Linked DNA regions of Homo sapiens: region 1 is linked to region 2. A link means that fine-mapping ties the variant in region 2 to the expression of a gene that starts in the linked region. Tissue or cell type: whole blood. Region 2 holds a variant in brackets; the other region holds the start of a gene. All regions are shown on one strand. Distances are between the middles of the regions.

The links.
Region 1: it holds the start of GPX7, and the variant in region 2 is fine-mapped to the expression of GPX7 in whole blood (TOPMed, PIP above 0.99).

Annotation. Positions count from the first base shown.
Region 1 is chr1:52,599,360-52,604,728 of GRCh38, reverse strand. It overlaps GPX7 (glutathione peroxidase 7), which reads right to left and starts at 2,358. Exons shown (of 3, transcript NM_015696.5): 1 at 2,182-2,358. The coding sequence starts at 2,319.
Region 2 is chr1:52,631,421-52,636,782 of GRCh38, reverse strand. It overlaps SHISAL2A (shisa like 2A), which reads right to left and starts at 3,615. Exons shown (of 3, transcript NM_001042693.3): 1 at 3,108-3,615. The coding sequence starts at 3,289. It overlaps LOC124904178 (a long non-coding RNA gene), which reads left to right and starts at 3,328. Exons shown (of 2, transcript XR_007066084.1): 1 at 3,328-3,475. RefSeq lists silencers at 3,288-3,337, 3,348-3,537, 3,628-3,737. The variant G/C (reference allele first, on the strand shown) is at 3,179.

The DNA of each region.
Region 1 (5,369 bases), 32 kb after region 2:
TCTGCCCGCTCTTTTGGAAGGGGGAAAATCTGGCTTCTAGTTCCATCCCTGAAACCAAAAAGCTTGGTCCTTAGAAACCAAAACACAGACAGACACACCCAAGTACACACAGTTAATTTACATATGTACATATACAAGCACAGACACAGACTCAGATTTGTACACAGAAGAAGTAAACCATTCACAAAGGCACACACTACACATAACCCCACACATTCCCAAGTGGTCACCCATTCATCCATACTGGTCTAAATGACTATGGTCCCAATTAGCCTGAGGGCATCAACCATGTCAATCTTGCTCATGACTATGTCATCAGAGCTGGACCCAGTGTCAGACATGTAGTAGGAGCCAGTAAATGTTTGCAGGTGAAGGAATGAGCATATTGCCCAAGCAGCAAGCCTAGCCTGGGTTAACTCAGCACCAATTACAGCTTTTCTGGACTCCCTGTTCCCTGGTTTACTGCTGAACTTGGCAACTAAGAGCATAGACTCTGGAGCTGGACTGTCTGGGTTCAAATTCTTACTGTCTTACTAGCTGTGTGACCTTGTTCTATTTTTGTCTTAGCACTTACTACTACTAGGAATTACCTCGTGCATTTCTCAGTTCCTTGTTTATTGTCTTTCTTCTCCTTACCCCATGTAAGCTCCATTTAGTGGAAATGTATCTGTTTTGTTCACCACTGTATCCCCAGGGCCTGACCTAGTATCTAGTTAGTATACAGTAGGTGTTCAATAATGAACAACGAATTAATAAGTAGCAGAGCTGGTCAGACGCTAAACCTGGGGCTCTCTGGTGAGCTGCCCTAGAGAGAACAGGAGGCCTGAATTGGAGCGGGCCCTGTTCTTGGTTCTTTGCCCAGAGTTCTAAATGAAGTTCCTGCTGGGATCCACCAAACACAGGTGCAAAGCACTCTACAGTTTACTAAGTGCATCCACGCCTTCATCTGATTTGAAACTCACGACACTCTGGGGGACAATCAAGCAGGGATTACTGTCCCCAAGACTCCCAGCATAATCGAAAATTTCAAGGCTTATAGAGTACTGGTCTTCACTAAAGATGGTGTTGCTCCCAGGAGAAAAATGTTGACATCTATTTTTGTGTGGTTCATCCAAAACTGGACGCTGGCCCACCTGTTCATTAGATTTCAACTCCCCAGCCATTTCACACCAGTCCCCAGGTCCATCCTGAAGAGGTCCACTCTGGGAGTTCTTCACTGCACATAATGTGACATGCAGGCCTCTCAATGTAGTGTTCAAGGTCCCGCCTGCTCCCTTGCCAGTCGTTTCAGCCTCATCTTCCACCACTCGTAGCCTCCAGCTTTAGACTCTTTGAAGCACAACAGCTGGAACTCCTGGCCCCGCGCCCCCCCACCCCCTTCTTGCTGTTTGCTTCTTAGTCTTGCTAAAATCCACTCGTATTCAAAGACTCAACCCAGATACCCTTCCTCTCCGAAGTCTTCTCTGAGCTTAGATTCCCTCTTGGTAATGAGGGGGCAATTAGCCTGGATGACTCTTATGTGTGCCCCTGAGCTGCCATCTAAGGACTTGGCCTAGAGAGGACCCCGGATGTGGCGGTGGGGTTCTCTTCCAGGCCCCGTCTTTCTAGTGTAGTGTGACCTTGTGCGAATGCCTGCCCTCTCTGGGCCTTTGTGCCCTCTCCCAGGGATGATCCGTGTGAGGTCTCCGTGCATCTGAAATAACTCTCTCTCTGCCCTGCACATTGATCTCCACAGTGTTCTTCACTGGACTCCGAATCAGCCACTCCCCGTTCCAGATGCAGAAAATGAGGACGGGAGAGGGAAAGGCCGCACGATGCTACGGTTACTTTTTTCACCCGTGAATGGCAAAGGCTGGGCAGTGGTGCCCGGCCTCCCGGCGAAGGTCTGGACCCCGCTGCCCAAAGGTGCCGGTAGCGAAGTGGGCGCCGACTGCGAGCGCTTCGGGTTCCTCCGCGCCAAGGCCGTGCCACGTAGCCGCGGGCCGGGCCGGGCCGGGCGCGGGATGGGGGCGCCGCGCCAGAGGTCACGGCCGAGCGGGGCGGGGGCCGGGGTTTGGCGGCCGCGCGGCTGGAGCGTCCTCGGAGCCACACCGCGCGGGGGACCGGGCTGCGGGGCGTCCCCAGCAGGCCCCGCCAGGGCGAGGCCGGGCCCAGCGGCGCCGCCAGACCCCGCGCACTCACCGATCCGCGGTACTTCTCCAGCGACACCAGTTTGCCCCGGATGTTGACCGCCTTGAAGTCGTAGAAGTCCTGCTCCTGCTGCGCGCAGGCCGCAGCCCACAGGAGCAGCCACGCCGCTGCCACCGTCGCCGCCACCATGGCTTGTTCCGGAGGTGGCGGCGTCGCGAGGGCAAAGACGGGGCGGGGGGATCTAGCGCGGGGGGCGGGAGGAGGCGGCTCTGGCGCCGCTCGGCCCGCAAGGCAGGACGCGCCGCGTTCTCGTTCCCTCCGCAGGCGGTGGATGTCCGGCTCTGGACCTCAGTTTCACCGTCTGTCCTGAGGCAGCGCACCCCTGCCCCGGACCCCAGAGCCAGGGTTTCAGGATTCTGTCCCCTGAGACCGGAGTTCGTTTCAGTGAGGCTCCCTCTTGTCCCAGGAAACAGCGACTTGGCAGGGACAGGGAGGCAAAAATCTGAGAGCTCAGCTTCTCATTAGTGCAGCGGCCTTAGGCTGGCCTGGTCACGCCCCCACTCCGACCTCAGTTTCTCCACATGTTAAGTGGAGCTAGTCGGTATAGGATGGAAGTAATAGAAAAACGGATGCGAAACACTTTAACAGTTGAATGGTGCCTGCAAACTTCAGGTGAATGAATGCATGTTCCCTGAAAGTGATGGCTGGGAGAAGAAGAGAGGACCGTGGGCCTGTTGCAGGTTAGGTTCCTGGAAGCAGATTCTGAGATGGAGATTGGAGTGCAGGATGTTTATGAGGGAGCACCCTTGGGATCAACAGGCGTGGGAAGGATGGGAGGGAACAGGAGTGGCACAGGGGGAAAGTAGTGAGCTCCATGCAGGCCCCAAGACAGTTTTAGCTGACTCGACAGGGACTCTAGAGCTAGAGTAGCCCATCAGATGAGCTAAGATGGCCAGGTCATCCTGCCTTTATCAGTCCTTGGATGTGGGGCCACCTGGCAAGTGGGGCAACAAGGGCCAAGATGGCCCTGTCTGTGGAGAAGCTGACATTAAAGGCTTTGTGCTAACAGCACTCCTAGCAGCTGGTGTCTGTCCTAAGTCCTCAGTGATGGGGGATCTGGGCAGCACATCACAATGTCTCCCCCTGCTCAGAAAACCCCTGTTGAGCCCATGAAATGTCAAACATGGAGCTGGATCCTGTACTCACAGGCTGTGAGTTTTTTCTGGAAACTCACAGACTGGTGTGAGAGAAACCAGGTAAACTGCAGATTTTATGTAATGTGGTAAGGGCTAAGCACTCCTGTGGTCATCAACAAAAACTTCCTGAGCACCTTTTCTATGCCAAGTTTTGCTTTAGGTGATTCTTAGGCAGGGATGAACAGGAGGGCATTATCTCTATCCAGGGAGACACAGGAATTAAATAATTTATAAATAGCTCTAAAATTACTGTTGTGGTGAGTACCACCTAAACTAGCCTGGAGGGCCATGGAGGGCTTTCCAGAAAAAGGGAGATTTGAGCTGAGCTCTGAAGAATGAGGAGAAATTGGTCAGGATGAAGCAACATACAAGTGCAAAGGTCCTGGGGGGAAAGGAACATGGTGCATTGAGTAACAAAGAAGCCTCATTTGGTTGGAACAGAGAGGACAAAGGATGAGAGGGAAAGGTGGAGAGGCAGGAGGGAGTGAGATCACACAGAGCCTAGTAGGCCACAGTAGGGACTGTGGTCTTTAAACCAAGAAATGAAGGTTCTTTTTAGCAGGGAGGTATCACAATGAGTCTTTTGTTGTAGAAAGATCTCTTTCGACAGGGCCCGGTGGCTCACACCTGTAATCCCAATACTTTGGGAAGCCAAGACTGGAGGATTGCTTGAGGCCAGGCGTTCAAGACCAGCCTGGGCAACCTAGCAAGAACTGTCTCTTCAAAAAATTAAAAAATTAGGCCAGGCGCGATGGCTTACGCCTGTAATCCCAGCACTTTGGGAGGCCTAGGCAGGCAGATCGCAAGGTCAGGAGAACGAGACCATCCTGGTTAATGCAGTGAAACCCCATCTCTACTAAAAATACAAAAAATTAGCCAGGTGTGGTGGCACACGCCTGTAGTCCCAGCTACTTGGGAGGCTGAGGCAGGAGAATCACTTGAACCCGGGAGGCAGAGGTTGCAGTGAGCAGAGATTGTGCCACTGTACTCCAGCCTGGGTGATAGAGCGAGACTCCATCTAAAAAAATAAAAATTAAAAATTAGCCTCGTGTGGTAGCATGTGCCTGTGGTTCTAGCTATTTAGGAGGCTGAGGCAGGAGGATTGCTTGAGCCCAGGAGTTCAAGGTTGCAGTGAGCTATGATCATACCACTGCACTCCAACCTGGGTGACACAGACACTATCTCAAAAAAAAAATCCTTCTGGCTGTTCTGTGGAGTTGATAGGAAAGGGCAAGAGCAGATGTGGTCTAGATGTTGGAGTTGACGTAGCTCCAGGGCTACCTCCTAGAGACCCAGAGGCAGTTGCTACCTAGCCTGAGCAGCCAGGCAAGGCCTTCTGGAGGTGTGAGGTGATACTGGAGTTATATCTTGAAAGAGGAATGGGAATTCTCTAGGAGGGTCAGGGCAACAACGTCAGACTGAAAGAGCAGTATCTATGACAGCACAGAGTCAGAGAAGTGCTTGGCTGTTTGAGGTGAGAAGGGGTGTGGGGCAGATGAGATTGGAAGGGTCATCAGGATAGAGAAGGGCCTTGAGTGCCAAGTCACTCTCTAGAGTGTGGCAAGCAAAGGTTTTGAAGCTGGCCACAAGATCATATAGTTACTAGGACTCGAACCCAGGCCTTCAGGTGTAGACCATGGGATTTTTCTGCACCACCAAGGTGGCCTCACTCTTCAGGAGAAGGCAATATTATCAGGAGAGGTGGAGAGCAGAGGAAACGGCGCTCCAGGCAAGGGCCAAGGCATACATAAGGTGCCCCTGCCCATCCTGCTCCTTCTTCCCCATCTCTTTTGGGAGCCTTAAGCCTGTGATGGGTCCCACAGCTATTAAATGGTCTCTTCTCTCTCTGCCTTCTGGAACCATTGGGCTCTCTTCCTGCCACCTGTCCCTTTCACTCAGCCCCTTCTTGAGTGTCCCAGTAACCAGGAGTTCTCAAATTCTACTTCATATAACTTGGAGTGTTGCAAGTTTGGCCAAGCTATTTCCTGTTAAAATCCAGATAGATGAGCCGGGCGAGGTGGCTCACATGTTTATACAAAATTA
Region 2 (5,362 bases):
TGCCTCTCACTGGGACACTCCCAGATAGTAACTTAACCTTTCTCAAGTTTTCTCATGTGTAAAATGAGAAGTGCCAGGGTTGTGAATGTGTGAGAGCATCTAACCCTTGGATAGTCTTAGGTAATGTTCTTTAAGTCTCAGTCTGCTATGATATTGCTAGGAGATCTCGGACAATTCACTTCCACACTGAATTTCACTTCCCACACCTATGAACCAAGGAAAGGGAACTCTCTTATTGAGCACCTAACATATGCACTGGTCACTTTCATGTGCATTATTTCTCTTAGTTCTTACAATTCCATCACACAAATATCTCTATCACCATTTTAAAGTTGAGAGAAAATACTAGGAAGTTAAATAACTTTTCCAATCCACATAGATAATAAGTGACAGATTCTGACCAGCCCCAAAGCTCCACACTGTCTCTGTACTATCACACAAATATCTCTATCACCATTTTAAAGTTGAGAGAAAATACTAGGAAGTTAAATAACTTTTCCAATCCACATAGATAATAAGTGACAGATTCTGACCAGCCCCAAAGCTCCACACTGTCTCTGTACTATCACACAAATATCTCTATCACCATTTTAAAGTTGAGAGAAAATACTAGGAAGTTAAATAACTTTTCCAATCCACATAGATAATAAGTGACAGATTCTGACCAGCCCCAAAGCTCCACATTGTCTCTGTACTTACAAGGGAGGTCAGTGCCATCTTATTTCAGAGCCTAGCTCAATGCCAACTACACAGTGGGCCTTCAACAAAACTTCATTGTTTCACTTTAGGTGAATGTTGTGAAAGTGCCCTAGTGAATATTATCACAGTAAGAGAAATCTGATACAGAAAAATTATCACAGTGAGAGAAATCTGACATAGCTGACTCCATCTTGTGTCTAACTTTACGAGCTGTCTTTCTTCATTCCTGGGCACAGGCCAAGTTAACTATAAGAGGAATTTAGTTTATAGTTTAACTTTAAAACAAAGATGATAACAGCCCCTTCCTAAAACTAACACCCTCCTTGCTCAGGGACTGCAACTGCCTTTGTTAAACTAACAAATTAACCACAAGGTTAGAATTATGGTTCAGGAGTCGTGTAGCTGGAGGTCACATGATTTGTAATCTCCTCAACTCCTCCTATAGGAGGAGTTGTAAAACCTAAAACTGGTGTTTGAGGTATCTTTCAGACCTTTCATTTTGATAGACCAGTTGGTGCCACCTGGACCAGTAACCCATACCAATAAACTGGCTCAACTGGTCTTGTGAGCTCCCCTACCCAGCAACTGACTCAGTGCAAGAAGGTAGCTTTGATCCCCTACGATTTTATCCCTAACCCAACCAATTGGCATTCCCTATTCCCTAGCCCCATCTGCCACCATTCCTTGAGAAACCATAGTCTCCGAATTCTCTGGTGGGGTGGGGGGTGGGGAATGAGGGTGTGGATTTGAGAATTATGTCCTATTTTGCCACTTGGTTGGCCCTGTGATTATTAAACTCTTTCTTTGCTGCAAAACCTGTTGTTCTCAGTGCATTGGTTTTTTTGGGCAGCAAGCAAAATGAACTTGTCAAGTGAATACCATTGTATCTCTAAATAAACTGTGAGTTCCTCAGGGGCAGGGAATAATTGATTTTTGTGTCTCCAATACCTTGCAAAGTGCCTGGCACAAAGTAAAGGCTAGAATGAATGAATGAATGAATGAATATATGGATGAACAGAAAATACATTAATATAATTCCCTGGGTTATAGATAGCACAAATATGTAGGATCTGATAACCTGGCCATCTGAAAATCATTTAGAATTGTGGATCGAGTCACCTAGAAAAAGCAATAATATTTGTAATTGTCATTGGCATATGTCAAGTTGATTTCAGCTCTGTTATGTATGTCATTTGACCGTTACCACTGCCTTAGTCAGAAATCAGGGCAATGATTGATCATCCTACTGCCCGTTTGATAGATGAAAAGCCAGAGACTTGAGAAGTTTTCGTGGCATAGGACACTGTCCTTTCCCACCCAGAGGGCAGCAGCCTCTGCTCATATACCTCCAGGGACAGGAAAATCACTAACTACTGAGATGGCCCACTCAATTTTTGCTGATGCCTGTTTCCCAAAGTAGGCTGAGGATCAAGTTCCATTCTCCAGGTAAGGCCTTTGGAGACCCAGGGGGATTGAGACCTATTACCCTCTCAAGCCAACACTTAGGCTCCAGGAATGCAACCTCTTCCCTGAACAAATGGGGAAACTGAGGTCCTATGGGTGGAGAGTCAACACTTCTATGAATATGGCCTGAGCTAGCTTCTGCACTATGCCATTGTCTCATGATGAACTTGGAGGCAGCTCTGACTCCCGAGTCTTCTGCCTTAGCTTGAGGATGGGGTACATCCCCAGCACTCACCACAGGGCTTGGCACACACCAAGTGCTCAGTAGAGAGTGCCCGAAAGAATGACTAAATACAAAAGGGAACCAAGGGTTGACGCTGGGCTGAGGCTGGGGTTGGGGTGTAGCACCAGGCGAGGGTTAAGTCTGGAGGTTGAGGTTTGGATGTAGATCTAGATATTAATAATATTTGGAGTCAGGATGTGGGAGAAGAGCTGAGGTGGGACTGCAGGCAGGACAGAAGAGGAGGTTGGGGCTGGTGATAGAATAAGGTCTGGGGTCAGTACTGGGGAGTGTGGAAAGTCAGGAATAAGGCTGGTGTTGATATTAGGAAGGGCACCTTGGTGGGATGATGATTGGGGTGGAGTTGGGCTGCCTGTGAATGTTTGAAGATGGAAGTTGCTGTTAGGGGGAGGCTTGATATGTGATTTGGGGTTGGGATGAGGGTGGTGATGGAATGAAGTTTGGGGTGGGGATAGAGTGAGGATTGTTTTGGATTAGAGGAGGGGGAGGTCCGAGCATGGCTCTAAATAATGGTTGGGGTCAGGATGAGGAAATCGAGCTGAGATGGGGTTTCACGGGGTGGTTGATGCTGTGGGCATGAGGACGGTAAGGACTAGAGCTTGCTGCTGATGTTCAGGTGGACACTCGGGTGGGGGCTGAGGCTGGGGTGAAGGCGCTGAGACTGGAGTGGGGTTCAAGGTAGGGTGAGGGCCAGGGACGGTACCTGAGCCACCACATGTAGCTGTGCTCGTAGGGGAAGAAGCTGTGCGGGTCGTCGCAGCAGTACTTGTGGTC[G/C]CGGAAGCCGCAGCAGAAGACAGCGGCCGCCTCGCCCCCCGGCCGCGGGCAGCTGAAGCCGCGCACCACCTCCTGCTCTGCGCTCACGTAGCTCGTGCAGGCGCCGCTCATCGCGCCCCGCGCCCAGCCCGCCGCCACCTCGGGCCACCAGACGGCCGGCTAGAGCCCGGCGGGGAAGCGAGGGACCGAGCGAGACGGAGCTGAGCCTGAGAACGGCAGAGACGAAGAGACCCAGGGGCCGAGAGAAGCCGAGACAGAGACAGCAGCGCGGGGCCCCGAGGACCGAGCGGCGGCCAGGTGCCCGGCCCGCGCGGAGGGGTAGGGGCAGGCGGGGCGGGCGGCGGGGGCCGGCGGCGGGAGTGACGGCTGCTGGAACGCGGCAGGAGCCGGAGCGGACGCGGGGAGCTGGGCCGGGAGCCGCGTGCTCGCCTGGCTCTGCCTGCGCTTCCTGCCCCCTCCCCACTGCGCTCCCCCTGCCTGCACGAGGGCGCTGGGTGCGCAACGACAGCACGACGCGGCCAGAGTGGCGGGGCGGGAATTCGAGGCCAGGGCGCGGGCGCCTTACCTGCACCGAGCCGGCGCCGGGAGTCTCGGGGCATTCGGGGCTGGGGCAGACAGACAAGGCACCAGCCGGCGACCACACGGCGGGGTCAGTGAGGAGAGTGAACACAACCTCACCCAACCTCCGCAAAAACCCAGGGGCCCGGGGATGTTCGCATCCGTGTTAAAGGTGAGAGCTGAGGGCCAGAGAGAAGCCATTTCCCGGAGTTCCTAAGCCCACGAGATTTTAACCGGGGGCGGCCTAGTAGGAAGTCCTTGCTCTTTCTGCGGCTTTCATGGTGCCTCTTTTCTAGCGGGCTTTTAGATGTCCTCATCATCTGGAGTCCCTGCTAGTCTCGCTGAGAGCTAGCTCGTGCACGGACAATGTCCACACTCTTCTGTTCATACTGCCTGCCACTGGCCTGGGACAAGGAGCCGAATATGGGTGTGGATGGGCCCAGACGGTAACCTCCTTCCCCACACTGACCAGCAAAGAAAGTCAGCAGACCTGTCCATTTTGAAAAATTACTTCCAGAGAACAAGGGCAGTGTTCTCACTAGCATCAGAGAACCACAGTCTGAAGGGGCTCTCAGTGCCTTGGCTTCCCCCATGTACCCTGTTGCCTTACGCCATCTGGAAGGGCTTCATACAGCACCTTCAGTGCCTTAGCTCTACATTTTTCACAGCAGTGGGTAGGGTAGGAAATAGTTACTGTGGTGCCTCGGGCACCCCCGATTCCTTCGCCCTTGGTTTGGACGTGTGGGGAACGGGCCGTGGGTATCAGGGGATCTGGGCTCCAGCCCAGCTCTACCCCTTCCCTGCTGTTTCTCTCTGAGCTTTGGGTTCCTTGTCCTCACCCAGGCCAGCTCCTCAGATGCTGATTGTGCCGCTGCCCTGACCTGGGTGGGCCCTAGGGCCCCTGAGAGGGATCAGATCTGGGCCTGCCGTTGAGAAACACACAGTCTGATGGAGGAGTCAGACTGACTGACGATCACAGCACAGGGCAGTAAAAAGGGAAATGCAAGGACCTGGACACAGAGGGGCACCATCTGAGGAAGCAGGGGAGGGCTCTGAGGGAGGCGGTGTCCTCAAGAGTCACTGTAAGGTCAAATATGAAAGCTGGAGGGAACTGTTATTATCCTCCAGAACATTCCTCCCCTGAGCTGTGGGTCTGAGCAGACTGGGAGCTGGAGAGCCTACACTAATGAGGGTGCACTTCAGCCTCTTTATCAGATGGAGAGTACAGGGGAGGAATCCTCTGGGAGGGAGAGGCTTCCTGGAGGCCTGGAGATCAGCTGGGAGGAAGAAAGCGCTCTGCCCTGGCTTTTGGCAAAACTAGAAAGCCTCCAACAATTTCCAAAACCCTCTCCCAGCCAAGAATTAATTTGTTCCTCCCAACAGCCCTCTGGGGTGAGCCACGCAGGGGTGAATGTGCCTGAAATAACAAGTCCAATACCACACAGCGATCAATGGCCCAGGCAGGGCTGATACCCATGTCTGTCTCCATGTCCCCCTTGGCAGTCTGATGAAGCCTATGAACCCCTATTCAGAATAGTGGGTTTTTTTTTGTTTTTGTTTTTTGTGTTTTGTTTTGAGATGGAGTCTCACTTTGTCATCCAGGCTGGAATCTCGGCTCACTGCAAC